Linked DNA regions of Homo sapiens. The protein of the gene in region 1 interacts with the protein of each later gene in a biochemical or structural test. Each region holds a gene or a part of one and is shown in the gene's direction. Other genes may lie near its edges.

Region 1 (7,573 bases):
AGGCGTGAGCCACCGCGCCCGGCCTGTTCCTATTTTCTAGCTGAAACTGTGTGCAGTGTTATGTATATACATATATATATATAAAAACACACACACACATACATATATATACATATATATATACAGATACATATACATACATATATATATATATATACACACACACACACACACACACAGAAGCTGAATACAAGTCTGTGAAATTCTAAAGCCCATAACATTCATTTCATTAGGACTCTGGTGAAGTGGGAACCCACTCTTCCTGAGGAGATGCTCAGACTTTGTTCCTTAGGAAACATTGTTTGTATTTATTTAGGAGAGGGTGATGAGAAAGAAGACACAGTTTGGATTAAGTTCTCAATTTTGAGCTTTAAGCTGATAGGAGTTCAGTTGAAAGACGTAAAAACAAATGGAAGTCAGTTATATTTAAGCTAGTTATGGGGACCGTATGTACTTGACTGTTGGCTTCGTAATTTCAGAATTCAAATTTTAGCTGGTCCTCACAACCACATATATTTTCCATATACCAACGCATTCCTTCTCCCTCCACCACTCTGGTTTCTTTGAATGACCTAGTTTGTATTGTTTTAGGTCAGGGCACCATGCCTCTGCCAGTAGTTTAAGCTGATTTCGAGGCAGATAAAACGTCTGTAGTCCATAGCACATCTATTCATGATTTGACTGTAGAAAAGTTTGTTTAAATGTTTTGTGGTTGAGTCAGACCACTTCTGCCCACCAGGGTGTAGATAACTTGTATACACACATGCTGGTAACACACAATATACTTTTAACTGAAGTTCATGTTTCTTAAATTGTTTTATTTAATGTCACAGGAATATAAATCCTACATAGAGATCATGCCCGTTTTGCTCACTGTTGTACTTGGGGCACATTAAGGGTGTTTAATGATAATTGCGTGAATGGATATTTTGGCCAAAAAATGCACTTTAAAAATTAATGTCATTGTATTTATACTGCAAAACTCAGCCCTATGATAAATTTAACTTCTAATCGCTGTCTCCCTTCATTTGACAGTTAAAATAAAATATGGGCATATATGTATAGATGCACAGAATAGACTTATTCTGGTCTCTTTCATCCAGCCTCTTAAATCAGCTTACTTTGTACCTTTCAGGCAGAACCCTGATCTCTATAAATATCCTCTTCCCTATTTAGCAAACCCTGATAATCCTGTGATCCCATCCTCAGTAGTTGGATTAATATGATGCTGTATTATATTTGCACTTGTCTTCCCTAGACCATGCTTGAAATGCCATTTATCATTTTGCTGGAAGAAAACATTAGCTGAACTTTGCATTTCTCTGTAATTTCACTCAAAGGTGAAGTATCTGAAGTTATTATTTCCTAATAAGGAAAATTACTCATTAGAAATGTAGAAGCACTGTATTCTACACCATTAGGTTAATAAAGTTTATCTATAGTTAGAATTTTTTTTTTTTTTGAAACAGTCTAGCTCTGTGGCCCAGGCTGGAGTACACTGGTGTGATCTCGGCTCACTGCAACCTCCACCTCGCAGGTTCAAGCGATTCTCCTGCCTCAGCCTCCCAAGTAGCTGGGAATATAGGTGCCCACCACCATGCCTGGCCAATTTTTTGTATTTTTAGTAGAGGCAGGGTTTCACCATGTTGGCCAGGTTGGTCTCAAACTCCTGGCCTCAAATGATCCGCCAGCCTCAGCCTCCCGAAGTGCTGGGATTACAGGCATGAGCCACTGCACTCAGCCTTATAGTTAGAATGATTTCTTTTTCTTTCTTATCTGTGCTTTGCTCCTCTCCTTTTAAGGTGAATAAACATTATGTTTGTCTCTTTTTTTTTTTTTTTTTTTTTGAGACAGAGTCTTGCTCTGTCACCTAGCCCATAATGCAGTGGCCCGACCATAGTTCACTGCAGCCTCAAACTCTTGGGCTCAAGCCATCCTTCTGTCTCAGCCTCCTGAGTAGCTGGAACCGCAGGTGCACACCACCACACCTGGATAATTTTTTTTTTTTTTTTTTGGTAGGGATATGTGTCTCGTGTTTGTTGCCCAGGCTGATCTTGAATTCCTGGCCTTGAGCTATCCTCCTGCCTCAGCCTCCCAAAGCACTGGTATTACAGGTGTGAACCACTGTGCCTGGCCTTGTTTTTCTCTTAATTCTTTAATATCAAATGTAATGAGTGTGGAGCAAGTCTCTGCCTGAAAAAAAAAACAGTATTTTTAGTAACTTCTTTAAAAGAGACACATGAGGAAAAACCCAAAACATTAATTTTAAACTTTGAAAATATTTTATAGGCCGGGTGCAGTGGCTCACTCTTGTAATCCCAGCACTTTGGGAGGCCGTCACGGGCAGATTGCCTAAGGCCAGGAGTTTGAGACTAGCTTGGGCAACATAGTGAAACCCTGTCTCTACTAAAAATACACAAAATTAGCTGGGTGCGGTTGTACACATCTATAGTCCCAGCTACTCCGGAGGCTGAGGTGGAAGGATCACCTGAGCCTGGGAGGCTGAAGCTGTAGTGAACCATGATTTCACCACTGTACTCCAGCCTGGCATTAGGAGTGAGACCTTGTCTCAAAAAAAAAAAAAATATATATATATATATATATATAATATATGGTTTTATTTTTTGTTTTTGTTTTGAGATGGAGTTTCACTTTTGTTGTCCAGGCTGGAGTGCAGAGGCATGATCTTGGCTCACTGCAACCTCTACCTCCTGGGTTTAAGCAATTCTCCTGCCTCAGCTTCCCAAGTAGCTGGGATTACAGGCATGTGCCACCATACCCGGCTAATTTTGTATTTTTAGTAGATACGGGATTTCGCCATGTTGGCCAGGCTGGTCTCGAACTCCTGACCTCAAGTGATCCACCCACCTCGGCCTCCCAAAGTGCTGGAATTACAGGTGTGAGCCACCACACCCGGCCAAAAAAAATTTTTTTTAAAATAGGAAACAGATCTTCCTTCATAATTTCTGCACTAAGCAGAAAATGCATGAGAAGAACTTTGCCTGTGTCATTTAATGTACTAATTTGATAAATTCCAGATGTTTTATAATTTATTTTAAGAGGTAATGAGACCTCTTCTTTTCACTTACAATCAGGAACTCAGGATGAGTAGTAAAATGGGTTTTCCTCTTAGCCTTTTTATGTCACCAGTCCCCTAAGGATCTCAGAATTTTAATTTTTACTTTTCTGAAAGGTGATATTATAAATGAGTGATTGCAATATAGCTAATAGAAACCAGGGAGACTTCTTGTAAATATAGTTTTAAGAAGGAATGCTGTCAAAGTATTCAAGACCAGATGAGATAAAAACAGCAAAAAAAAAAATCTTGCCTTTGGGTGGATCGCTTGAGCTTAGGAGTTCAAGACCAGCCTGGGCAACATGGCAAAACCCCATCTCTACAAAAAATACAAAACTTAGTGGGGCGTGGTGGTGTGAGCCGGTAGTCCCAGCTACTGGAGAGGCTGAGGTGGGAGGATCGCTTGAGCCCAGGGAGTCGAAGCTGCAGTTAGCCGTGTTCACGCCACTACATTCCAGCCTAGGCCACAGAGGAAGACCCTGTCCCCCCAAAAAAAAGAAAAAGGAAAAAAAAGTCTGGCCTTTTAAAAAGCCAGACTTCTGTTTGTTTCCAATCTATTCAATCTCTGTCCCCCAAATCTTTTGGCATAGAATTTGTCTAGCTTAGACTAAACCTTCCATCTTACTGCTGGAAAAAATTGAGGCATAGAAAGGTTAATGTGGTCCTTAGCAAGTCAGTACAGATACAGTACTAGAAGTGGTAAACAAAGAGTCTCTGAGGCAGAAAGGAATTCTTAATAATTATGCATATTTGCGTATGATTGTCCAAAGATGCAGTTGTTGAGAATTATTTCTCAGAAGTATCCTTTGATCTTAGTGAACAAACTGGTTTGAATTATTGCCTGGTACAATGTGAATAACAAATACAACCATTTTGCATAATTCTAAGACTCAGTTTGAAGGAATTTCTTCTTGGGCTGGGAGATTAAATTATATGCCCTTTAAACTCTGGGATTCTTTGACTCTTGTTCTAGCCATGTGTCGTTAGAACAAGATTATCAGCTATAGCACAGAACAAATAACTTTCCTATAAAGATGTTCTTATGTTCTTAACTAAAAATCAACATGGTTTATTTATTTTTTCTTTGTTTTCTTTTTCTTTTTTCTTTTTTTTTCTTTTTGAGACAGAGTCTCACTCTGTCACCCAGGCTGGAGTGCAGTGGTACAAATACAGCTTACTGCAATCTCGACCTCCCAGGCTCTAGCAATTCTCTCACCTCAGCTTCCTGAGTAGCTGGGACCACAGGCCTGCGCCACCATGCCTGGCTTATTTGTTTTTTATTTTTTGTAGGGACAGGGTCTCACTATGTTGCCAGGGCTGGTCTTGAACTCCTGGGCTCAAGCAGCCCTCCTGCCTTGGCCTCCCAAAGTGCTGGGATTATAGGCGTGAGCCACCATGCCCAGCAACATGCTTTATATTTCTATCCATAAAAAATAATAAATAATGGCCAGGAGAGGTGGCTCATGGCCTGTAATCCCAGCACTTTGGGAGGCCAAGGTGGGCTGATCGCTGGAGGCCAGGAGTTCAAGACCAGCCTGGCTAACATGGCGAAACCCCATCTCTACTAAAAATATAAAAATTAGCTAGGCATGGTGGCACATGCCTGTAATACCAGCTACTCTGGAGGCTGAGGCACAAGAATTGCTTGAACCCAGGAGACAGAGGTTGTAGTTGAGCCGAGATTGCACCACTGCACTCCAGCCTGGGTGACAGAGGGAAATATTAGATTAACAGTAAAAAATTCCTTGGTTAATTTTGGTGGGTTTTTGTTTTGTTTTGTTTTGTTTTGCTTCATGGATGCCTTTTATGATTTCTTAACTTCTCTGTTGTACCAAATTTTTCATCTAAAAAACACAGATTATCTATACCATGCACCTATCCTGTAGGGTCTTGTGAAAGATGATAGTAGAACATTTTGAATGAAGAAGTCTTGAAGATGTGCTGAAATAGATAAAATCTTTTTTTTTGAGACGGAGTCTTGCTCTGTCACCCAGGCTGGAGTGCAGTGTGCAATATCGGCTCACTGCAACCTCCGCCTCCCAGGTTCAAGCGATTCTCCTGCCTCAGCATTTCGAGTAGGTGGGACTACAAAGCGCCTGCCACCACGCCCGACTAATTTTTTATATTTTTTGTAGAGACAGGGTTTCACCGTGTTAGCCAGGATGGTCTCGATCTCCTGACCTCGTGATCCGCCCACCTTGGCCTCCCAAAGTGCTGGGATTACAGATGTGAGCCACCGTGCCCGGCGATAAAATCTTTTTTAAAAATTTTTTCCTTTTAATTTTTGTGGGTCCATGGTGTTATATATTTATAGGGTACATGAGATGTTTTGATACAGGCATGCAATGTGAAATGATGAAATAGATAAAATCATTAACAGGAAGCCCAACTATAATTTTATATAGCCTTTTTATATATTTTTGTATAACACCTTAAAATCGTGTGTTAACTTGGGTGTGTCATCCTATTTAATTCCACAAGTGTTATCTAGTGTCTGTTTGATAAGTGCCAGGCATTATGGGACAAGTATAGCCCTTACCACGAGAAACTTTAGTAAAGGAGAAAAATACAAACATCAGTTACCTAGTTTGATATGATGAATGTTCTGCTCTAAGTGTATGTAAAGGGCTTTAGGAACACAGATGGGGTAGAGTTCACACTCCCAGGAGATTTGGGGTGACTGCTAAGCTAGATTGATTGGAGGAGCAGAAATAAGCCCTGCTACTTATTAAGTTGCTGAATTTACTGTAGCACTTCTACCGAAACTTGGAAAGAGGAAGCAAATGGAATAAGTGGCATTAGAATGAAAAATAATAACATAAGCTCTCCATAACCAATAACTTTTTTCAAGGAGAAGTTATTCTCATATCCAGTTAATATCACAGTCAGTGCCCCCAGAGTAATCTGTCTCCTTTGTGGTTGTTGAAGGGCTTGCTCTCAATTTTGCGCAAGTTGAAAAGTGCACCAGACCAGGAGGTGAGAATACTTCTCCTGGGCTTGGATAATGCTGGCAAGACCACTCTTCTGAAGCAGCTTGCATCTGAAGACATCAGCCACATCACACCTACACAGGTGAGCACTGCCTTGGCTCCAGATGCCGTGTGACACAGGAAGACGATAATAGCAATGTGAAAGACAAAATGGGAAATACAGTTTTGTCCACTTCCAAGTTTTGTCTCTGAGAAAAGTCTATACAATCTAAAGATAACCAGATTTCAAAAATATGTAAGAGATTCCATTCTCATGAGGTATTTAGAGTAGTCAGATTCATAGAGACAGAATGCAGAATGGTGGTTACTGGAGCTGGGGAGGGGGAATGGGGAGTTATTGTTTAACGGGTACAGTGAGTCAGTTTTGCAAGATGGAAAGAGTTCTGTGGGTAACGGCCCACAGTGTGAATGTATTTAATGCCATGGAACTGTACACTTTAAAATGGCTGAAATGGTACGTTTTATGTTATAACGTTAAAATGTGTACGCAGACACACTTCACAGTACCCACTTCATCAGGCCACCCCACTGCAGCATCTGCATCCCACTGGGCTTCAGCCTCCACACAGCACCTTTCAGCACATGCACCCCTCTTCCGTCTCTGCCCCACCTTCCCCACCCGCACATGTCCTCAGCAGCTGCATATTGTACGTGTTATGTTACAATTTAAAATATATGTATACATATATACACATGTGTGTGTTTGTGTGTATATAGACAAATCCAGCAGATCTGAGTACCTATATTCTTTTTATTTTTATTTTATTTCTTTAAATTATTTATTTTTTGAGACACAGTCTTGCTTTGTCACACAGGCTGAAGTGTGGTAGTGCAATCTTGGCTCACTGCAACCTCCGCCTCCCAGGTTCAAGCGATTCTTGGACCTCAGCCTCCCTAGTAGCTGGGATTACAGGCGCACACCGCCATGGCCCGCTAATTTTTGTATTTTTTTGTAGAGCCAGGGTTTTGCCATGTTGGCCAGGCTGGTCTCAAACTCCAGACCTCAATGATCCACCCACCCCAGCCTCCCAAAGTGCTGGGATTACAGGTGTGAGCCACCACACCCAGCCTATTCTTTTTTAAAAAATAGCTTTATCTTCTCTGATTATGAAAGTAGTGCATGTAGAAAACACAGAGAAAGTATAAAGGAGAAAACTCTGAGAAAAACCATGGTTAATATTTTACCGTGTACTTTTCAGACTTAATAAATACAAATATGTATCAATTTTTAAAAGAAAAAAAAATTACCTGCCTTTTTTTTTTTTTTTTTTTTTTTGGAGACAGAGTCTCGTTCTGTTTCCCAGGCTGGAATGCAGCAGTGCAATCTCAGCTCACTGCAACCTGCGCCTCCTGGGTTCAAGTGATTCTCCTGCCTCAGCCTCCCAAGTAGCTGGGACTACAGGTGCACGCCACCACGCCTGGCTAATTTGTTGTATTTTAGTAGAGACAGGGTTTCACCGTTGTTGCCCAGGCTGGTCTCGAACTCCTGAGCTCAGGCAGTCCACCT
Region 2 (7,573 bases), on another chromosome or scaffold:
TTGCTTGCTCCTAGAAGATTTCAGTTGTACCTTAAAAGGAACAGATTGCAAATACAGCCCAGAGAACATAAATGAGATATGATGCATGCATATTAATAGAAATGATTTATATTAAAAGTTTAGGCTTCTGGAATGTGGTTATGGATTATAGCATATACAGTTTTAAAGTTATATCAGACAATTACCATTCAACTTGTAAGACTTTTACATGTAAAAACAAAATGGGTTGCCTGAAAAATTTCCTTGCAGCTTAGAAAAGGGTGTTTACATTTTTCCTTAGGTTGTGTAATCAGAGTATCTTTTTTTGATGTTTTCTTTTTGAGATGGAGTCTGGCTCTGTCATCGCCCAGGCTGGAATGCAGTGGCGCGATCTCGGCTCACTGCAACCTCTGCCTCCTGGGTTCAAGCGATTCTCCAGCCTCAGCCTCCTGAGTAGCTGGAATTACAGGCGTGCACCACCACGCCTGGCTAATTTTTGTATATTTTTAGTAGAGACAGGGTTTCACCTTGTTGGCCAGGCTAGTCCTGAACTCCTGACCTCAGGTGATCCACCTGCCTCAGCCTCCCAAAGTGCTGGGATTACAGGCGTGAGCCACCGCTCCCAGCCCAGAGTATCTTTATTGAAGGGCACCCCTTGGGTTTTGGGGTTTGAGTTGTGTAATTGGGTCAGTCTTAGGGGACTGAAGCTGGGAGAAATTGTCTCATTTAGAAGGAATGTCTGGGGACTAAGCATTGTCATAGCAACTGACATACTGTAGTCAACAGTGTAAGAAGCTCATTTTCTATTGCTACTGACTTTGAAAAAGAAAAAAGATTACAATTCTTACACTGATGTGATGAGAAATATTTTTGGATTGTAAGACTTGTGTTTAAATTATTTCAAAAGAAATGTTTTTATCCTTATCTGTATGCTGCCACCCATAGGTAGGCAAATTATTCAGTATGTATGTACTCAAACACCAAGTAAGTCTCAAAATTATAAGACTTATCCCTGCCCTAAAAGAGTTTACTGGCTTTCTGGAGTTAAAACAGGAAACATTTAAGTACATATGAGGTGAGGAAGAGTGATACGGAAAAGTAGTTTTCATCTTCCAGTATTCATGCCCATACTTTTCCTCCTAGATAATAGAAATGAGGATTAACTCTAAACAATTATGGCTTAAGTGTGAAAATTGTGATTTGAGTAAGGACAACACATGTGTCTGTTATATTTGTCTCATATTCAATAGAAATAATACTAAACAAAAATCTTATACCAGAAATTCGAGTATCTATTGTGTAACTTTGGGTAAAGCAGCCAATTTGTGCACTTCAGGTTCCTCAGCTATATAGTAGGACAATGCTAAAGATTTCTCTACTGTTTAGTAAGGTAAAGGCCTGTCCTGAAGAAGAGGTTTAGACAGTAATGGTCACCTCTGAGGAAAGAACTTAAACCAGAGGTTGGGCATGACAGAACTGGTTTTAACATAAGGCAGATCATAATTCCCAGGATTGGTCATCAGTGGAAGGGGTGGCTTCGTTGAGGACCTGATCTCCATGTTAGTCAAAATTGTCAGACAGTTAGGGTGGTAATCTGCTAGAAAGAAGTGTCTGCACTAAGTAGGAGGAGGCTAGATACTGTTTTTAGCCTTCTTTTAAGTATGAAAAGTATTCTAGTTACCCATTGCTGTGTACCAAACCACCCTAAAACTTAATGGTTTAAAATAATGGCAGATATTTTGTTCATAACTCTTTAATTTGCATAAGGTTAAGCAGGGTTGACTCTGCTCAATGTGGCATCAACCGTGACAGCTTTCAAGATGGCTTGACCACATAGCTGGCTGGCAAGTTGATGCTGGCTTTGGGCTGGGAGCTCAGCTGGGGCCTCTCCATGTATTCCTGGCTTCCTTACAGTGTGATGGCAGGGTTCCAAGGGCAAGCATCCTAAGAGAGACTGGCAGAAGCTGCATGGTTTTTTTCTAACTAGCTTATTAAGTGAATTCTTAAGTCACTTAATTAGACTTAATTTGGATGTGGCAGGAGTAATGCTGAGGCAGTCACAAATGCCCACCCAGTTCCAAGAGGAGGTGACCTCTCAATGGGAGGAGTGTCAAAGAATTTGCCAGTAGGTTTTAAATCCTCTATATAAAGTTGTTTAAAGGATATAACTAGTTCTTTGTTTATTAATTTTAAAAATAGCTTTTTAGAGATATAATTCATATGCCATACAATTCACCCATTTAAAGTATATAATTCATTCTATCTAACTGTATATATATTTTTGAGATGGAGTCTCACTCTGTTGCCCAGGCTGGAATGCAGTGGTATGATCTCCGCTCACTGCTCCGCCTCCTGGATTCAAGCGATTCTCTCACCTCAGCCTCCCAAGTAGCTGGGATTATAGGCGCGTGCCACCACACCCAGCTAGTTTTTGTATTTTTTAGTAGAGATGAGGTTTCACCATGTTGGCCAGGCTGGTCTCGAAACTCCTGGCCGCAGGCAATCTGCCTGCCTCGACCTCTCAAAGTGCTGGGATTACAGGCATGAGCCACAGTGCCTAGCCGTCTAACTGTGTTTTTGTACTCATTAACCAACCACTCTTCATCCTCTCCTCCCCACTACCCACCACAGCCAACTATTGTTGATAATAATTTATTGTATATTTCAAAATAGCTAGAAGAGAAAATGTGGAATGTTCCCAACACAAAGACATGATAAGTGTTTGAGGTAATGGATATCCCAGTTACCCATATTTGATCATTACATTGTTGTATGCTTGTATGAAAATATCACATGTACCCCATAAATGCATACTACTATTATTATATATCCATAAAAATTTAAAATAAATTTAGTTTAAAAATAAAGTATATAATTCAGTATTTTTTAGTAAGTTCACAGGCTTATCACCATGGTCTAATTTTAGAACATTTTCATCCCTGGAAAAAGAAACCCTGTACCCATTAGTAGTCATTCCCCATTCTCGTCTCTCCGAGCCCCTGGAAACCACAAACTTATTTTCTGTCTCTATAAGTGTTCCTATTTTGGACATTTCACTTCATTGGAGCCACAATATTTAGCCTTTTGTGACTGGCATCTTTCACTTAGCATGTTTTTGAAGTTTGTCCATATCGTAACATGTATCAAGACTTTATTCTATTGTATGGATATACCACATTTTATTTATCTATTCATCAGCTGATGGACATTTGGGTTGTTTCTACTTTTTGTCTATTATGGATAATGGTGCTATGAACATTTGTATACAAGTTTTTGTCTGGACATGTTTTCATTTCTGTTGTGTACACATCTAGGTTTGGAATTGCTGGGTCATATGGTAACTCTATGTTTAACTTTTTTTTTTTTTTTTTTTTGAGACGTAGTCTCACTCTGTCGCCCAGGCTGGAGTGCAGTGGTGTGATCTCAGCTCACTGCAAGCTCCGCCTCCCGGGTTCACGCCATTCTCCTGTCTCGGCCTCCCCAGCAGCTGAGATTACAGGCGCCCGCCGCCACGCCCGGCTAATTTTTTGTATTTTTAGTAGAGACGGGGTTTCACCATGTTAGCCAGGATGGTCTCGATCTCCTGACTGCGTGATCTGCCCACCTTGGCCTCCCAAAGTGCTGGGATTACAGGCGTGAGCCACCGCGACTGGCCTATGTTTAACTTTTTGAGGAACTGCTAAACAGTTTTTTAGAGTGCCTGCACCATTTATATTTCCACCAGCAATGTGTGAGTGTTGTTTCTTCACCCATATAAAATTTTGATAAAGGTAAAAAGCATAGAGAGTGAAAAGTATATGGGGCTGGAATTTTAATTTGTATTCTGCACCTAACTACACCTCACTGGTAAACTAATTTAGCTTTTAGCCCTCAGTTTCCTAAGATCCCTTCCAGTTCTTGAATTCTTTGAGCAGCCCATGAGGGGAGGTAAGCATTGCTAGAAACATTCAGGCAAATCTGGATGAACAAAGGGAATGTGATAGGATGTAAAAATAGATTCAGATTAGATTAGATGATATGGGGAATCTTTTCAATCCTAAAATTTCATAATTCTATTTTGTTGTTATATATTTCACAAAATGGTAAGCTAATATAAATGTAGTACTTCAGTTTCTCGAATCATCAATAGTATATAAGCTCAAGATACTGGTCTTGAGCTTATACTATATAAGCTCAAGATACAGGGTAATTTTTGTATTTTTAATAGAGACAGGGTTTTGCCATATTGGCCAGGCTGGTCTCGAACTCCTGGTCTCATCTGATCCTCCCACCTCGGCCTCCCAAAGTGCTGGGATTAAAAGCAAGAGCCACTGCACCCAGCCTCAGAAATTTTTATAGAAGTTTTAAGAATGAAGCATCAAAAAAGAAAAGGTATCAGAAAGCTGAAATAGCAAGGTCGTGGTTAAGATCATTAGATACATAGGATATGAGTTGAATTTTTCATAGCCCCTTTTATTAAAACAATCATTTAAAAAATATATTTTTGACCCTGGTACTCTACAAAGCTTAGTACATTTTTTTTATTTAAAAAAATTTTTTTATTATACTTTAAGTTGTAGGGTACATATGCACAACGTGCAGGTTTGTTACATATGTATGCATGTGCCATGTTGGTGTGCTGTACCCATTAACTTGTCATTTACATTAGGTATATCTCCTAATGCTATCCCTCCCCCCTCCCCCAACCCCACGACAGGCCCCGGTGTGTGATGTTCCCCTTCCTGTGTCCAAGTGTTCTCATTGTTCAATTCCCACCTATGAGTGAGAACATGCAGTGTTTGGTTTTTTGTCCTTGCTATAGTTTGCTGAGAATTATGGTTTCCAGCTTCATCCATGTCCCTACAAAGGACATGAACTCATTCTTTTTTATGGCTGCATAGTATTCCATGGTGTTTATGTGCCACATTTTCTTAATCCAGTCTATCATTGATGGACATTTGGGTTGGTTCCAAGTCTTTCCTATTGTGAATAGTGCCGCAATAAACATACATGTGCATGTGTCTTTATAGCAGCATGATTTATAATCCTTTGGGTATATACCCAGTAATGGGATGGCTGGGTCAAATGGTATTTCTAGTTCTAGATCCTTGAGGAATCGCCACACCGTCTTCCACAATGGTTGAACTAGTTTACAGTCTCACCAACAGTGTAAAAGTGTTCCTATTTCTCCACCTCCTCTCCAGCACCTGTTGTTTCCTGACTTTTTAATGATCGCCATTCTAACTGGTGTGAGATGGTTATCTCACTGTGGTTTTGATTTGCATTTCTCTGATGGCCAGGGATGATGAATATTTTTTCATGTGTCTGTTGGCTTGCATAAATGTCTTCTTTTGAGAAGTGTCTGTTCATAAAAGCTTAGTACATTTTTTACTTGTATAAATTCCAAATAGGCTAAAAGCCTACTGACAGTATTGACAGTAGCAATGATGATGTAGGTGTCACTTGGGTTAAGTCACAGGAAAACTCAAACCATAGTGTCACAGAGGCTACCCTTTAGCTTTGCATGCCCAGAACACAATTTAATAGCAAAGATAGTGGATCTGTCTTCTGGGAGGTGTGTATATTGACTAAGATCATAAGTTTTATATTATTATTGAGAGAAACTATTTGTCCTGTTCATTTTCTTATTATGTTTCAAAGTCATTGAGATTAAGAATTTATATTTCAGCACTATTAGTTCTATAATTATGTGGCACTAATGTTTTCATTTGTGAAATAACCTCTCAGCTACATAGCTATCTAGCCCTGAAGCTGACTTAACAATGTTTAAACTTTAAGTATTTGTTTTAATTGAAGTGTAATTTATATACAGTAAAATTTACCCTTGTTAAGTGTACGGTTCTATGAGTTTTGACAAATAAATACAGTTGTGGAGCTATCACCAATCAAGATATAAAATGGTTCCATCGCCCCCAAAAGTTCTTCCTTTGTATAGTCAGTTTGCTCCTTTGTAGTCAGCCCCACTCCCAGCTCCTGATAAGTTTTCTATCCCTATAGTTTTGTCTTTTTGAGAATGTCATATACATGGAATCATACAATACGTAACCTTTTGAGTCTGGCTTCTTTCACTTAACCATAATGCATTTAAGATTTATCCATGTTGTTGCATGTATCAAGAGTTTTTTTTTTTGAGATGGGGTCTCACTGTGTCACCCAGGCTGGAATGCAGTGGCACAATCTTGGCGCACTGCAGCCTCAGCCTCCGGGGCTCAAGTGATCTCCCATCTCAGCCTCCCAAGTAGTGGAGACAACAGGCGAGTGCCACCATACTCAGCTAATTTTTTGTATCTTTTTGGTAGAGATGGGGTTTCAACACGTTGCCCAGGCTGGTCTTGCACTCCTGAGCTCAGGTGATCCGCCCACCTTGGCCTCCCAAAGTGCTGGAATTACAGGCATGAACCACCACACCCAGCCGGGAGTTCCTTTTTAATTGCTGAGTGGTATTCCGTTGTATGGATATATCACAGTTTGTTTATCCATTCATCAGTTAAAGGACATTTGGGTTGTTTCCAATTTTGGTAATTATGAATAAAGCTACCATAAATATTTGTGTACAGGTTTTTGAGTGAACATAAGTTTTCATTTCACTTGGGTAAATACTCATGAGTGGGATTGCTGATCATATGGAAATTGTTTATTAAACTTTACAAAAAACTGCCAGGTCAGTGGCTCACACCTGTAATCACAGCACTTTGGGAGGTGAAGGCAGAAGGATCGCTTGAGGCCAGGAGTTCAAGACCCGCTTGGGCAACATAGTGAGACCCCACCTCTACAAAATGGATAAACATAGCCAGGCAGAGTGGCATATGCCTGTAGTCCCAGCTACTTGGGAGGCTGAGACAGGAGGATTGCTTGAGCCCAGGAGTTTGAAGCTGCAGTGAGCTCTGATTGCACCACTGCACTCCAGTGTGGGCAACAGAGCAAGACCCTGTCTCTATAAAAAAAAAATTAATTAAAAATTTAAAAAAGAAACTGCCAAACTATTTTTCAAAGTGGCTATGCCATTTTGCCTACCAGCAGTATATGAGAGATACAGTTGCTCTGCATCCTCACATCACTTGCTTGGTATTGTCAGGTTAATTTGTTTTTAAGAGACAGGGTCTGCTCAGTCTCCCAGGTTGGAGTACAGTGGCATGATCATGGCTCACTGCAGCCTGGACTGCCTGGGCTCCAGCAATCTTCCCACTTCAGCCTCCCAAGTAGCTAGGACTACACTACATGTGTCTGCCACCACACTCGGCTAATATTTTTATTTTTTGTAGAGACAAGGTCTGGCTGTGTTGCTCAGGCTGGTCTGAAACTCCTGGCTTCAAGCGATCGTCCCACCTTGGCCTCCCAAAGTGCTGGCATTACAGCTGTGAGCTACTGCACCTCGCCTAGCTTTAAAAAAAAATGTTTAGCCATTCTAATAGGTGTGTAGTGATGTTTCATTGTAGTTTAACTTGCATTTCCCAAATGACTTGTATTTACCTAAATGTTGAGCATTTTTCATGTACTTATTTGCCATCCATATATCTTTGGTAAAATGTTTATTCAAATCATTTGCCCATTTTTTTATTGGGTTATTTGTTTTCTTATTATTGAGTTTTTCAGA
Region 3 (7,843 bases), on another chromosome or scaffold:
CAAAGTGGCCTCGCTGTGAATGGGGGTTCCTTGTGTCCACTGGCAGAGTGCCTGACCATGGAGCCACGTGAGGGCCAGCTCTGCCACTCTGCAGCCCCCAGGAGGCACCAGTTTGCTTGCTGGTTTCTTTCCTCCTGGGCCCGACCATCCAGTTTCTTCACCCCCTATTCAGACCTCATCTTGTGCTGGCCACCAGAGTCTCAGATGACAGGGATCCTCAGAGCTCAGACCTCCCCCGTGCTTTCCTTGGGCCCCTCCCGGGCTTCTGTTACCCGCTGGGTGGGCTTGGTGACCCCTGCCCCTGGAGCTCTCCACCTTAAATCAGCCCACCCCAGTCAGAAATCCCTGTGCTACCCCCTCGGTGGCTCATTGCTGCTCACTGGGATCTTTCTCTCTCTAATTGAAAAATTAAAATCTGGTTCTCATCTTTCCCATGCATAACCTCTGTGAAAAATGTCAGATACCTTAGCCCCAGCAGGTTTCCTGCCTGCATTTCCTCTCCGGCCTCTCTCTCCCAGGCATGCAGATTCCATCCCTCTATTCACACACGCATCCAGAGCCTACCCTGTCCTAGCCCCTGGGGATAGAGCAGTGCTCAAAACAAAGTCCCCACCCTGTGGGGGCTTGAGTTCTAGTTGAGGAGACAGACAGACAAGAGACAAGATAAATCATGCATATAGTATGATAGGTGGCTGTGAGCACTATGGAGAAACATTGAGAAAAGAATACAGGGAACCCCTGGGGAGGCGATTCTGCAGTTTCATAGCAGGATCAGGGAAGCCCTCACTGTGAAGGCGACATTTGGGCAAAGTCCTGAAGAAGGTAAGGGAGGGAGCCATGCAGCTACAGGAAGAACAGCACTCCAGGCAGAAGGAACAGCAGGTGCGGAGGCCCTGGGATGCATGCGTGTTCCAGGAACAGCATGGGGCCAGGGTGGTGGAATGGGTGAGTGAGAGGGGGCGTGGCGGGAGGCAAGCTCAGAGGGTTGATATGCAGGCAGCGCGGGCCAATTATCCAGAGCCTTTCAGGTCATCTTAAAGCATTTGGCTTTTACTCTGATGAGATGGGGAGCCATTCCAAGGCTCCGTGCAGAAGAGTGACATGATCTGACCCAGTATTGGGGCTGCAAAGACACTTCAGAGGTCAAGGATGGAAGTAGAGACCAGTTAGGGAGAGAAAGAGATGGTGGAGGCTCAGACCCGGTGATGAGCAGTCGTCAGGGGTGAGAAGTGATTGGATTCTTACATGTTGGAGGTAGAGCCCATAGGATGTGGGTGTGATGGAGGAGGTGAGGTTGGTGACGGGGCTTGCTAACCGGAAGGATGGGGTTATGGGAGGGGCAGGCCTGGGGAGGAAGATGCAATGCAGGCAGCCTGTGCACAGCACTTAGAGCTTTCTCGCCAGCTGTGTGTCGGCGGGTACGTACCTCAGTGCCTTTGCACATGCTGGCCTCTGTGCCTAGGAGGTTTCTCCTGCCCCGTCAGAACTCCAACTGCCTTCTCAAGTGTCCCTTCTGTGAATCTGTCCCTTCACCCCTCATCCCCATCTGTTCCTCTCTCTGCTTTGTGCACATTCGGGACCTCGCACGCATCGCAAAGCCATTACCGTATTGTGCCCCAGAAGGTGCCCCAGAAGTTAGGACTGAGCGCCATCCATCCCTGAAGCCCTGTGTGTACGAGTTCCTAACAGCTCAGTGTCCCCCACACAGTAGGGGCTCAACCAGAGACTGCCTGGGGACCTGGGTGGACTCCTAGCTCTACTGTCTGTTCCCAGGTTCTGCCACGTTGGGTCGCTCGCCTTGCCTGCGTGGACCTCGATGCTTACCTCTGTCAAATGGGCGTGCTCTTTCCCTCCCTGCCTCGGGGTGTCATGGGAGCCCGCTCGCAAGGATCCCGAAAGCTGGGGTTAGCGCGCCCTCTGCTGGACGATGAAAGACTCCGCGCGCTCTGCTCCCCAGTCCCCCAGGTGGCCCGGGGGAGGTGAAGTAAGGCGGGAGGGCGGGGGGACTACAGGAGAGGAGGGGGAGCTGCTGCACCCGAACATTTCCAGCGCACCCTACACACATGTCCTTACTTAATCCCTAGCCCGACTCTGTGGAAGAGCTTAGGTGAGACCCATTTTCCAGAGTTCCTACCTGTTTCCTACTTGCTACTGAATTTCTTACTCGTAGTTACCTTATTTTTTTTTTTTTTTTTTAAGAGGAGAAGCGACTCAGAGAGAAAAGGGGCGAAGAAGGCTGGGCCGTGTAGAGGAAAGAAAAGGCGCGAGAGAAGAAGACTGCCCGGGTGACCGCGAGGCCTCTGAGGAATGGCTGAAGAGCAGATCCATCTACATGGGGCTGGGAGGGGAGGTGCGGTCACCGCTCAGCCGCCGACTCAGCCGAGGGAGACCTTGGCCAGCCCCTGCCACTCCGCAGGCTCGGTTTCCTCGCCTGTGAAATGCGGGCGATGACTCCCCTCCCCGCCGCGACTGCTCATCACCGGGTCCGAGCCCAGCCGCTGACCCCGGGGGAAGCGCCTTGCTCAGCGCCGGGCGGCCCACGAGGCCCTGCAGGACCGCGGCTGCGGAGACCGTTCCCGCCACCCGCCTGGGCTCCAGGGCCAGACGGGCTGAGGTCCCTCTGGGCCTCCGTCTCCTTTCCAGGGAGGGGCACCGGCTAGGTAACACGGCACTCGCCCTTTCCCTTCTCTGAGCCTGTAGTAGATGATGATAATAATGTTTCCGTGGAAGGTCCTGCTTTGTTAATAGTCACAGATTACAAAGTACTTGCCTTTTCCCACTCCCCTTATGTCCCTTCCCTGTACAAAACCTGGGAGGTGGCCTAATACCTATCCCCAATCTGCAGTTGACAAAACTCTAGCCCGGAGCAGAGCCACCTGCCTGAGCTCACCCTGAGAACCAGACCTGGACATGACCTGATAACTCAGCCCTTTCCTGCCCCTCAGCCATCGCTCAGCCAGGGCCCCTGAGCTCCCTCCAGGACCTCCTCTGCGAACTGTCAAGTGCACCTGGACTCTGAGGGCTGGCGATGGTGGGTGTGAGGAAGGAGAAACCCCTGTTGGAAAAAGGGCCTATGAGAAGGACGTCTAGTTAGAGGGGCAGCTGTGAGCACAGGTGTGGGGTTAGGGAACAAGGGCAGCCCTGCTGGCAGGAGGGGAGAAGGTGATGACCGCCAACAGGAAATCCCCAAGCCCAGCAAGTCAGGGAGCCCATTGAAAGCCTTTTATCCTGCATCGGCGATTTAACCCCATGTAAACGCCAAGTGAACATTCTCTTGTAGAGACCGATGGTCCTCATTTTCCTGTAATCCTGTAAAGGAATCTGATTTCTTCCATCAGCCTGTCCCTAGGACTAAAATGCCTCATTAGTGTTATTCTTAGGAAGGCATCTTCCTAGATCAGGCTGCAAGGAAATGGAGGAAGTGACTGTCAGTCACTCACACCCTGCAGGGGCACTAATTCCGAGAGCCTTAGGGGTGGGTGGGGAGCAGTTCATTGAAAGCCCAACTGGGTGGTGCATAGCGTGTGAATGTGAAGGGGATGGAGGAACCCAAGGAGGCCAGGCCTGGAGACAGCACCAAATCTGGGAGGTACATTATTATTCCCATTTTACAGAGGAGGAAACTGAGGTAACCTGATCATGACCACACTGCCCCACAGTAGAGGAGCCAGAATCCAAACCCAGGCAGCCTGCCTTGCCACCAGAGCCACGCTTTTCACCCTCAAGCTGCAGTTAAGAAGTATCACGCCGTGGCTAGGCCCACGGCCTCTGGCTTCACATCCCACTAGCTCTGCCATCTTTAGCTGTGTGACCTTGGGCAAGTTACTTGTCTGTGCCCGAGGGTCCTCTGTAAAGTGGGGATAGTAGTAGCTGCTTCACTGGGTTCCCTTCAATGAGTTAATAGCTGTAACATGTTTAGAATGGTGCCCTGCACATAGTCACCAGCCAGTACATATGGGCCATTATTCCTGAACCCTGGATAGGCACATGTCCTTGAAGAGTGTAGAATTCTTCAGGATTCTGAAATGCCAGCCTGTGGGATCCTGGAATCCTCCAATAGCATTCTAACAGCTCTCAGCTGCAGAACTGTACCCTGTTTTCTAGAGCTGGAAGGTGTGAGGCTGCCTGTCCACCCAGCTCAACCCCACAGTAGGCAAATGAGGTGATGTCAAAGCCTTGGCTGGGGCCCAGCCCCGGTAACCTCCCACTCTCCCTCCCCTGTGTGCTCCCTCGCTCAGATTCACACACACACTCCAGGCCAGCCGGGCCCAGAGGGAAGGTGAGAGGGCAAGGAGTAAAGGTGGCTGGGTGTGGGTCCGTTGAAGCGAGCCGCCTCCAGCCCTGTTGAACTGGTGGGCCCAGGGACTGGAGCGGGATTGAAAGGGATCTTGCTCTCCCTTGAAGCCTTGAGTTGCAGCGATTTCAGTGTCTTCTCTCCCTGTGTAAGCCTGTCTCGGTGTTTAGGCTGAACTACAGCCACCCCCTCTCCCGGGGGTGTGCAGGCCAGGGACTGGCCAGGCAGCCATGGCTGACGAGAAGACCTTCCGGATCGGCTTCATTGTGCTGGGGCTTTTCCTGCTGGCCCTCGGTACGTTCCTCATGAGCCATGATCGGCCCCAGGTCTACGGCACCTTCTATGCCATGGGCAGCGTCATGGTGATCGGGGGCATCATCTGGAGCATGTGCCAGTGCTACCCCAAGGTAGGTGGTAGTGGGGCTGGGTGGGGCCAGGTCAGCTGGGGCCAGGAGGGCTGGACACTGTGCCTGTATGCCATGCCTCACCCCCTATCCTTTAGTTGTCTTTTCATTCTTCTCATTTTGACTCGGTCTTCTCTCTGCTCTCCTGAGCGTCTGTCCCATCCATCCATCCATCCATCCATCCATCCATCCATCCATCCCTTAGCCTAAGGGTTGATCAGAAGGCCCCTGGATCTGGAGCCCTGAGCCGGAAGCTATGGTATAGACACAGCAAACACAACACACCATGTGCTTGAAACAAAAGCTAATGAGCGCTGACCCCCTGCCAGGCACTCCTGCGTTCAGGGTGCAGTTCAGCCCTCATCCTAAGCCTTTTGGTGCTTTCTGTAGTTCCACCTTCTGAGCCTTTCTGAGGTCCAGAAAGAGAGGCTGCACAGCTAACGAGCAAGGTTTGGAGCTCAGATGCGTGTGACTTACACGTCACCCTTCACCTTGGGTCTTCTACCTCTGGGTCCCAGAGCGACTGAGAGCTCCAGGGTAGGTCAGGTCTAACCTTGGTGGCATGCACTGGGCAGTATCCTTTAGAGTCTTCATGTATTCTCAGCCTTATGTGTAATTTAGTGATGGGAAGAGCACTGGTTTGGGAGTCCTGAGTTCTAGTTCAAGTCCTGTTCCAAACTCTCTATGACCTTTGTCTTTCTGAGCCTCATTTTTTTCATCTGCAAATGAGATCCCTGCCCCTATTTTCCACAGAGCTTCACAGGGTCATTATAAAGATCAGAGAAGAGATAAGATATAGGAATATTTTGTAAACTGTAAGGTGTTATTTATAGATGAAGGGCTACCACTGTTACCCATACTGATCCTCCCAACAGCTCTGTGGAATGGAAATGCCAGGAGTTGCGAATCTTCAATGCCTAGAGAGGCTGGGTGACTTCCAAGGTCACACAGCTGGTCAGGTACAGACCCAGGGAGAAAAGGAGGGAAATAGGGACTCTAACTTGGGCTCTGTCTCTTACTGCCTGGGAGACTTTGCTCAAGCCCCTTTCCTCTCTGAGCCTCAGTTTCCTCATTTGTACACTGTGTGAGTTAGGAGGGGGGGGTGGGAAAGGGGGTATATCTGGGGGCCCTGCTGGACCTAATATCTAGGGCTCCAGGTCCAGGCAGTCCTCAGCAACCCCCACACCTCCTCTCCTCCCACCTGGGTGGCTGTGCTCAGGGTTTCAGGGAAGAAGGGGGATGGCTCCCTGGGGCCTGGGCCGGCTCTCCCCAGCCCTGCCCCCTCCACGGGCCAACCCTGGGCTGTCATTCTGTTCAGTGCTGGAGCGGTCTGGGCTGGTTTGTAGTCATTTAGCAGGCAGTTTACAGTCAACTTGCCTCTGTCTGTGCAATTCCTTGAGCAGAGGTCACTGGGAGAAGTCCTTGGGGCCAAAGCCACTCATGTCACCACTGCTATTATAATCCTTCTCCCAGTGAGGAGGCTGGACCCTGGGGGACAGCAGAGGGATGGCAGAGGTGTGGAGAGGAGCATCCTTCCTGCCCCCGCTCTTAAATAGAGCTGGCTCTGGGATGGTTGGTAGGCTGATGGGAGTGACGGTAGAGGGGAGGGGAGGGGAGGAGGGAATATTGCTGGGTATTAATGAGTAACTGTTGATAGATTCATGGGTTCACGTGCTGTGGAGGCAGCGTGGTGGGCTGAAAATGGCACATGTTGTGGCAACCTCCAGGCCCAGATTCAAATCCCTGCTCCTTCATGTCCCACTTCTGTGACCTTGGCAGAAAGAGTCCCTCCCCCTCAGCTCTGAGCCTTGTACGGCTGATTGGGAGAACACAGTGGGATCGTGTGTGTGTGTGTGTGTGTGTGTGTGTGTGTGTGTGTGTGTGTTGGGGGAGACCTGGCATCACACCTGCCATGGAACATATGTGAAGGCATTGTTCTTAGGATTGAGGATTGGTATTTGCGGCACTGGGTGGGCCTCTGCATGAGTGCAGGTGTGTGTGAGTGTGTGTTTCAGAGATGCAGGCTGGTAGAGCCAGCACAAATTGACTCCAATAAGGGAAGGGAGGAAAGCACCTTATAAACCAGGGAGACACTCTAGAGGCGAAGCTCCCTGGATCCTGCTTGGTCTCATTGGTGCCTGGGCCAACGCTGCCTGCAGTGCTCCTGCCTGTCCTCCCCTCAGCCTCCTCCCCGTGGCTCTCTGTGCCAGACCTATGGAAAGTTTTGATAAATGGGGAGATATAAATATAAGGGAATAGAATTAGCTAATTAGGATATAGGGGTGAGGGGTAGCCAATACCAACATGCATTAAGCTGTCCATGTCTTTTAGGGGCTAGAGGTCTAGTGGGAGAGGCTATTTGCTGCCTGATGGGGAGGAAACAGGCTTCACAGAGAAGGTGAGCTGGGCTTTGTAGGTGAGATAAGAGTTCACCAAGCAGAGAAGATGGGGAAAGACATTCCAGGCAGAAGAGTAGCATGATCAAAGCAATGTGGTAAAAGAATAAGGCAAGTGGGCCATTGTGGCTACGAGAGGCAGAGGGGAGGAAGGTAAAGGTAGCGAGGGAGTGGGGCTCAACTCTTCAGGGCCTGGGATGCCATGGTAAGGAATTTGGAGCTTGTCCTTTAGTTAATGGGACACGACCAGCTTTGCAGTTTGAGAAAGACATCCAGAAGAAGGAAGGTCTGGGGGCAGCCATACCAGTGGGGAGGCTTCTTCTCTGGTCTTGGTGAGAGCTGACAGTCATCTGGAATAATGCAGAATTCAAACACAAAGCTGTAGGAACTAAGGTGACATTTACAGTTCACTTCACATAGAGTACCCGTTGTGGCTAGGCATAGCACCAGCACTTCCACCCAGGTTATCTTATTGAATTTCTGAAGTAGACCTGGTCAGATTTGGTGGTCAGCTGGGCCTCAGGCATGAGAGAGGAGAAGGGATCAGGGCAAATCTAGTGGATGGGACAGTTGGAGGTGCTGAGCCCATTAGTGAAGATGGGGCAGGGGAGCTGTGAGCAGGGAAAGGAGTGGCAGGGAGAGCAGGGTCTCTGCCCACGCATCCCCCATTCCTCACTCCTGCCTGCTGTGCTGGAGACCAGGACCAGGGTCCTGACTGGTGGCCTCCCTCTCTCTGGAGATTGCTCAGT
Region 4 (7,085 bases), on another chromosome or scaffold:
GGTTGTGGGATGGGTGCCACACAGACATAGGGCCATCAGGGAACAGTGGCATTTCTCAAGTGGACAGGGAGATTCTGCATGGCCAGGTGCCAAACTCCTCATGAACGAGGGAGCGAGTCCATGAGGTCCAAGGACGACAGCAGCAAGGAGCTGCCAATGGTGGTGGAAGCTGACAGTGGGCATGCCCTTTGAAGGAAGGAGGGGCTGTGCCCACGTGTAAGAATGATGGCCCGGCAGCGGCAGCTTGTGGAAAACCAGCCCATCCCTAGGAAGGCCTGCGGTGGCAGAATTCCCTTGAGAACAGCTAAGGAAGTGACGGTCCAGAGGCTGCACTGTCCTGGGCTGTGTCCAGGTGATGTGGAGCTCGCTGTAGTTCTTACTCAGTGCATAAATGCCCCGTGGTTGGGTTTACATACCGGTCCCAGGAACCAGGCCCCAGCAACAAGCTGTGGTTCCTCCTCTCACCTTTTTAGGACCTGCGTTGTCCCCTCCCTCCTGCATCCTCAGTCTCTCCCCATCACCGGCCACTTCCTGCTGCCTGCTCTGGCTACCACCTTGTTTCTTTCCTGCCTTGCACTGGCAAACTTCCCAAACAAAAGGTTTGTCATTCCTGCCTCTATTTCCCCACCACCTTCTCACCTATAGTCTCTCTCTCTTCTGCCCTCTCCTCTCGACTGAACAGCTCTCTTGAAGGCCACCAGGGCTCCCTGCACTGCCAAGAACTGGTGCCATTTCCCTTTTATTCTCCTGGGTGTCTCAGCAGCCATGGCTGGATTACCATTCCTGCACCCTGCGAACACAATTAGCCTGTTTTCACACTGCTTTGCTTGACTCTTCTCTCTCCATTCCCTTTTTGATGCTTCATTCTCTTTCTTATATCTTTAATAAAATCCCTTCTTGGGGCTATGCTGTTCTCTCTACCCAAAGCACAGTGTATTGATGAGATGCATGGAGGCCAATGCCAAACTGCCTAGACCCAAATTCTGGCTCTGCCACATACCAGCCAAATGACCCTGGGAAATTAGTTCTCATTTCCATGACTCGGTTTCCTCATATCGGGAGTGGTATAATAATACCTACCTCCTAGGGTTTTTGAAACTCTAGACAGTGGCTGCTATATGGTAATTATGAAGCCTCTCTCCTTCCGAGCTCTCCCGTGTACCCCTCTAGCTCCAGCTAAGGCACATTTTAAGTCTTTATCAGACCATCCCATGAAATTAATTTCATTTGGAGTGAATTCATGTTCTCATTGCTGACTTTGTTGACTGTCTTTCTGTACATCATATTTGTCATGTGATTTTAAATGTTGGTTTCAGGCTCACCTAGAGTAGCGGGTTTGCTTTTGTTCTGTTTTCTCTCCCTCTCTATCTGCTACCCTCCCTGGGTAGTAGTTTTGTGGTGGCCCTCATGCAGTTTCCTAGTCAGAACCGAATCTCCTAGTGACATTTTTGGAGTTCTTCCTCTGCAAATATTTTGGGGGATATTCTAGACCCAGTCACCAGCCATGCGGCTGAATCTTTTTGTTCCCTCTTACTTATTATACCAATGTCTTCTTATAAACCAAATAATTTTTATAAGTTAGAATAAAGGTTATCAAACCCAGCAGTTATCAGCTGAAGTCCTGTTTCTTCATGCAGAGCCCAGAATATGAGTAGCACAAATGTATTTCAGATACTTTGTGTGTATTACACCAATGGCTTCCTATAAACCAGGGTTTCTCAATCTCATCACTGCTGACATTTGGGGCTGGGTAATTCTTTGTCATGGAGAGGGCTGTCCTGTGTATTGCAGGGTATTTAGCAGTGTCCCTGGCCTCTATCCACTGGATGTTAGTAGCACTCCCCCCTCCAGCTGACACAACCAAAAATGTCTTCAACCATTGCCACGTGATCCTTGGGCAACCCCTGCTCCACCAGCAGAGATCTAGTATCATAAAGCCATGCCCCCACACAGGGGTCAGCATTCCCTTTTACAGCTTCTGTGTCTTAAAGGTGTGGAGGAGCCCAGCCAGCCTGTGGTCTCAGTCCTACTCACTGCTTTGTGTTTTTCTTCTAATTTTGGGCAATAGAGATGTTTGCCTTTTGGGGAGTGTAGGGGGAAACCCTAGTTATATCTTTTTATTGTTCCTTTGTTTCATTTGGTCCCTCATGGCTATGAAATCGGAGCAGAGGGTATAAATTCATGCACAGATATTCTGCTTCATCTGGATCAAAATGCCCTCTCCTTTTCATCCTTCAGGAGTGATGTCCTCCTTCCCATCATGATAGTCTTTCTAGCTTTGGAATATTTATAGCACTTACTGTCAATAATAGTCACTTTGCATATTCTGCTTTCAGCCACTTGGAAGGGTTGTCAAAGTCTAGGATTGGTATTTTACTTTAACTGGCTTATCTTTTGTGGCTACAATTTGATGTTGGCTTCTCTGAGGTTTCTTTGCATATTCAGTAGTGGCTAAGAGGGCAGGTGGAACATAGTAGGTATTTGGGAAACATTGAGCCATGAATCTCTTGTTGGTTGGTACAAAGACCTCTGAGGCTCAGGTTCAAAAGTTCTAGCTACCGTCTTGCAGCTTTGAATCATTGAAGTAGGTTTTCTGTAGTACAAAGGCTATTTGACTATGCAACTCACAAAATCAGAGATGTTACACTTGGTCATTCTTCGAGGTAAGGGAGCCCTGGGTGCTGATTGCCTGGGGACAGTTGCGGTTTACTCCTGTCTTCCAGATGAAATTGATAATGTCTTGTTTCACTCCCCAAAGTGCCTTGGTTTAGCTGATAAAATATGCGGTAACCCCACTTTGAGGCCACTAAGTATACTCTCCTTTATAAGTGTGGACATTGAACAAATTATATTTTCCCTTTACTTACAATGTTTCCCCACATTCCCCTGGGGAAAAGAAGCTAGTGAAATGTTTTATTGCAACTCTGTGCTTATTCATGGATTTGGATGAACTGGCATTTACTGAATAGCAATGACTGCTGTACACTTTGCAGGTAGGTGCTCACTACATGTGAACCAAACGTACATCATCTGAAATGCCTTTGCGCTACTCGTATTCTGTGCTCTGCATGAAGCATCTGGACTTTGGCTGATCACTACTGTGTTTGACGATGCTTATGCTAACTTATTAAAATTACCTGGGCAAGCCTATCTTTCACCTACAGTGTGATCTGCACCCCAGAGCCAACATCCACACACATCTGATCACTGGGACTGACCTGCTGTGTCTGTCAGCCAGAAGCAAGGCTTAAGTGATTTCATTTGTGGAACTGATCAGTTCAATGCGGACTACACATACACTAAATCTTCGCCTCTTGATGGCAACACACCCTGAGTCCCCATGACTTCCACAGGCTGCCCTTCCACCTAGTTAATTTCCAGGGAGGAAACTGCCAGGCTGGAGGTCACAGTTTGTCCCCTGCCTCCAGGCAGCCCTGCACTTAAACAAGTGTATTCTAAACAAACAAAAAACAAATTTCCAGCCCTCCGAGAGAGTTGATTTGAACATTCCAGGCTCCTGTGGCTCCCCATAGGCACTGCCAACCTAAAACCAAAATGATCCATTTTGTCTGAAATGAAGAAGGAGGACCCTTCGAGGGGAAGCTGCTGTTCGGCTTTGGTGGAGAAAATGGCTGAGGACGGGTTGACTTCTCAGCTGCTTCTTTCGGGCCTCCACGTGCTGCCTCCTGCCCGATGCAATACCATCATGTTTCCTTCTCTGCTTTCTTCCGGGAGATGGAAAACAGTTCCCCACCTTTCCCCTGGTGTCCCCCACTCAGGACCTGGTGTTCCTGCCCAGTACCACGGTGGGCGGGGCGCTCCCCCAATCCTGCAGGCCTGTCATGGCCCACCCAGACAACTGGAACAGGGTGGGAGCTGCTGGTGCTCAGAGGGCTCCCCTGCAAGCCCCCAGGCTGTGTTTAACAGTCTTGACAAGTGTACCCTTGGGCAGAGGGCCAGGAACAATCCGTGTAACCCCATTAAGCTAATTATCCTCTCTGCAGATGGCCTCCCGCACTAATCCTCTTGGGTTTGCCATAATCCAGCTCCCTCTGGGGAGAGTGGCCAGGGTGGCAGGTCTCTGTGCAAATGGACCATCTGTTGGAGCTCAGGAGGCTGGGCTCCTGCCCAAGGGACTGGGGCCTCAGGCTCTCAGGCCAAGGAGAGTGGCCCCGAGGACTGTCCGGAGGAGGGTGGCCAGCCCTGCTGCCCAGAGGGACTGAGCCACTGGCAGGGAAGGAGGCGGTGTTCCCCCTGGCCTGACTTTCCTCCAAAGGACGTCCCCCTGAGGCTTAGGGGCTGAGCCATGCCCTTGTGCTCCCTGGAGGACGGTGAGTCAGCAGCTGCCTATGTCCCGCAGGGTCAGCCAGCCACCTGAGGGGCAGAGAGTCTTGGCTCTGGGAAGTCACAGCAAGTGGGGAGGCGTTTCAGCCTGAGAGCCTGGGAGGGATGTCTTGAACAGGATGCTTGCGGTGACGCAGGATCGGTTCTCTTCTGCAAGGCCTGCTGGGCTGTTTGGGAGCAGATCATGTTTAAACACGACACAGTGGAGTTTCAGGTTTCTGCTCGTTGATTTACAGGATGTTAGTATCACAGCCTGTCTGTTTCTCCCACCTGGACCTGGAGGGTGAGCAATGCAGTCGCTGGAGTCAGAGAGGGAGAAATCCCTCCTGAGGATTTCTTGGGGCTCTTGGAGAGGAGGGAGAGGTGGGCAGCTGCCCCTTGATTCCTGCAGGGTGAGGTCAGCTGGGGTGGGAGCAGATTCTGGGGAGGTGTCCAATTTGCTTCTTAGAGGACCGAGACTTCAAGAATCTCTGAAGACCCAGGGCAAATAGAGAGAGTGGTAAGGAAGGGGCATAGAAGGTCCCTATCAATGAGGTCATTGAATTTTCTCTACCCAGCTTCAAGGCTGGCATCCTGGGCCCATTTGTGCAGAAGAGACTGAGGCCCGGACAGATGAAGTCATGGAAGGGCCACAAAATCAAACTGGGGTCTGCTCTCTTTATGGTAATGACATCCCCCCAGCGGCCAGTCAAGTGCCAGTCTCCCGTCCCAGTTTTCTGGTGGAGAAAACGAGGCTTAGGGGAGATCAGTGGTTCCAACGGCAAGTGAGCAGAGATCCATGGCCCAGACCTCAGACGAGGTCCAGCGCGGCTGCAGCTAACTGTCCCTGTGCCTCAGATCTGTACTTCCCCATGGGACCATGCCCCACAGCCAGCTCATCCCCCTGCCCCAGGCTCCCTCCCCAGCTGCTGCACAGTGAAGGGAAAAGGAGCAAAGACACTGCCTCAGGGTGGAAGCTTGGAGGAGGTCGCGGGAGGGCACCAGGACTCCTTCCCTGGGGGAGGTGCACAGCCCAGAAATGCATCTCAGACAGTGAGAACACACCTTCAAGATGTGCACTCCACATCGTTCTTTATTTACCCTCTCGGTTATATAAACATCTTCCAGAAATCCTCTTACAAATTATAGTGACCTCAGACAGGCCTGCTGCTCTCTTCTAACAGGAGGGGACGAGGAGAGCTGGTTGCCGTTTTCTGAACCTCTGTGTTTAATGTGTGTGTGTGTGTGTATGCGTGTGTGGGTGTGCACATGAGTGTGTATGTTTGTACAGGTGCGTGTGCGCACATGTGATGTGGGTGTGGGTGTGTGCACATGAGTGTGCATGTGTATACAGGTGGGTGTGCATGTGACGTGTGTGTGCATGTGATGCATGTGTTAGTTTACGAGTGCACGTGTGTGTGTGTGTATGTGTGTGTGTGTGTGTGTTGGAGGGAGACACCTGGTGTTTTGGAGGGATCCCTGGACCTGCAGTCACGAAGTGTAGACTGTGGCTGGCAACATAGTTCTCTGCTCCTCTGCTCCTGGGTTTTGGTCTCTTAGGTGGAAATCAAGGGGTCTGGACTAAACAAGCCTTCGGTTCTTTCCAGCTCGATGGCCTGTGCATGCAGTGTTCAACAGCTTTCTCAGCTCCAAGTTAAATAACCCGTCCCTGTAACCTTTCCCTGTAAAACGCATTTTCCAATCCTTTAATCATCTTGGTTACTTTCCTGTGAACTCCCTCCAAGAGACCTGTGTCATTGAATAAGTATGTCATATAAATTAGTCAGTAAATCAATCTGTCAACAATATCTCTTGAGCAACCACTCTGTGGCTTGCTGGAGGTGCTGGGCTGATACAACCCAGCCACACAGGGACAGAAAGAGTTTTCACCCTGCCTCAGACCCGGAGTTGATTTGTCTAACAGTGGCCTGAGGCACTGGGCACCCACTGGGATGTCATCGATCCCCAAAGACCGAGCCTTCCTCCAACATTAATGTCTGAAAATACTTTAGGTAACATTAGCTAGGCACCTGCTCTGTTCAGAGCTCCACTAGGCACTGTGATAGTTACAAAAGTGAGCATGATGACCTCCAGGAAGGGCAGGTACGCACAGAGGACGGGAGGAGATAGGGAATCAGGGGGGACGTGGGCTCAGAGTGGAGAGCCGGCCAGCCTCAGGCTGCAGATGGAATCTTGGTGTTCAGATGTGGGCTACTTTGAAAGGTTTTTTTTTTTCTTCAATACAGAAGGATCAATTGTAAAATGAAGTAGCCAAAAGCATTGAATTTGGAGGAAACAAGACTTTCGTTCAAAGAGTGATTTCACCACTCACTAGCTACGTGAACCTTGGGCGAGTCATTGAAGCTTTCCAAGCCCCAGATTCTTTAAGATACTGCGGGGCTGGTTATACCCAGCAGGAAGGAATATTAGAGTTAGATGACATCGCATTCGTCAAGTGTCTGGTGCATAGCAGGAGATCTACATGTATAATCTGCTTTCTCTCCACCACTCATGATGGATCAGTTTCTGAGGAGGCCCCCAACCCTTCTGGATGGATATCTATATTGTCAGCCTTACTGTTAGCTGGGGCCCTAAGTTCTATGAGTCCACTCTGTGACGTGTATCATATTACAGTCCCTGCTTCTTGATCCTAAAATCATTTCCTTCAACCCTGAAGGGCAGTCTTTTATTTATAGTGGAGTCATGCGTGGCTTCATGATGGGAATGCATTTTGAGAAGTGTGTTGTTAGACAGCTGTGTCA

The links.
Region 2: the proteins of ARL3 (region 1) and RP2 form a complex in vitro, tested with the Homo sapiens proteins (2 studies listed by BioGRID).
Region 3: the proteins of ARL3 (region 1) and BSND interact in a biophysical measurement, tested with the Homo sapiens proteins (one study listed by IntAct).
Region 4: the proteins of ARL3 (region 1) and RP1L1 interact in a biophysical measurement, tested with the Homo sapiens proteins (one study listed by IntAct).

Annotation. Positions count from the first base shown.
Region 1 is NC_000010.11:102,703,921-102,711,493, reverse strand, and holds part of ARL3 (ADP-ribosylation factor-like protein 3), read left to right. Parts: intron 1-6,004; coding exon 6,005-6,148; intron 6,149-7,573. UniProt on the Homo sapiens protein: Small GTP-binding protein which cycles between an inactive GDP-bound and an active GTP-bound form, and the rate of cycling is regulated by guanine nucleotide exchange factors (GEF) and GTPase-activating proteins (GAP).
Region 2 is NC_000023.11:46,839,673-46,847,245, forward strand, and holds part of RP2 (protein XRP2), read left to right. Parts: intron 1-7,573. UniProt on the Homo sapiens protein: Acts as a GTPase-activating protein (GAP) involved in trafficking between the Golgi and the ciliary membrane.
Region 3 is NC_000001.11:54,994,663-55,002,505, forward strand, and holds the start of BSND (barttin), read left to right. Parts: upstream 1-4,270; 5' UTR 4,271-4,524; coding exon 4,525-4,701; intron 4,702-7,843.
Region 4 is NC_000008.11:10,652,144-10,659,228, reverse strand, and holds the start of RP1L1 (retinitis pigmentosa 1-like 1 protein), read left to right. Parts: upstream 1-4,085; 5' UTR 4,086-4,331; intron 4,332-7,085. UniProt on the Homo sapiens protein: Required for the differentiation of photoreceptor cells. Plays a role in the organization of outer segment of rod and cone photoreceptors.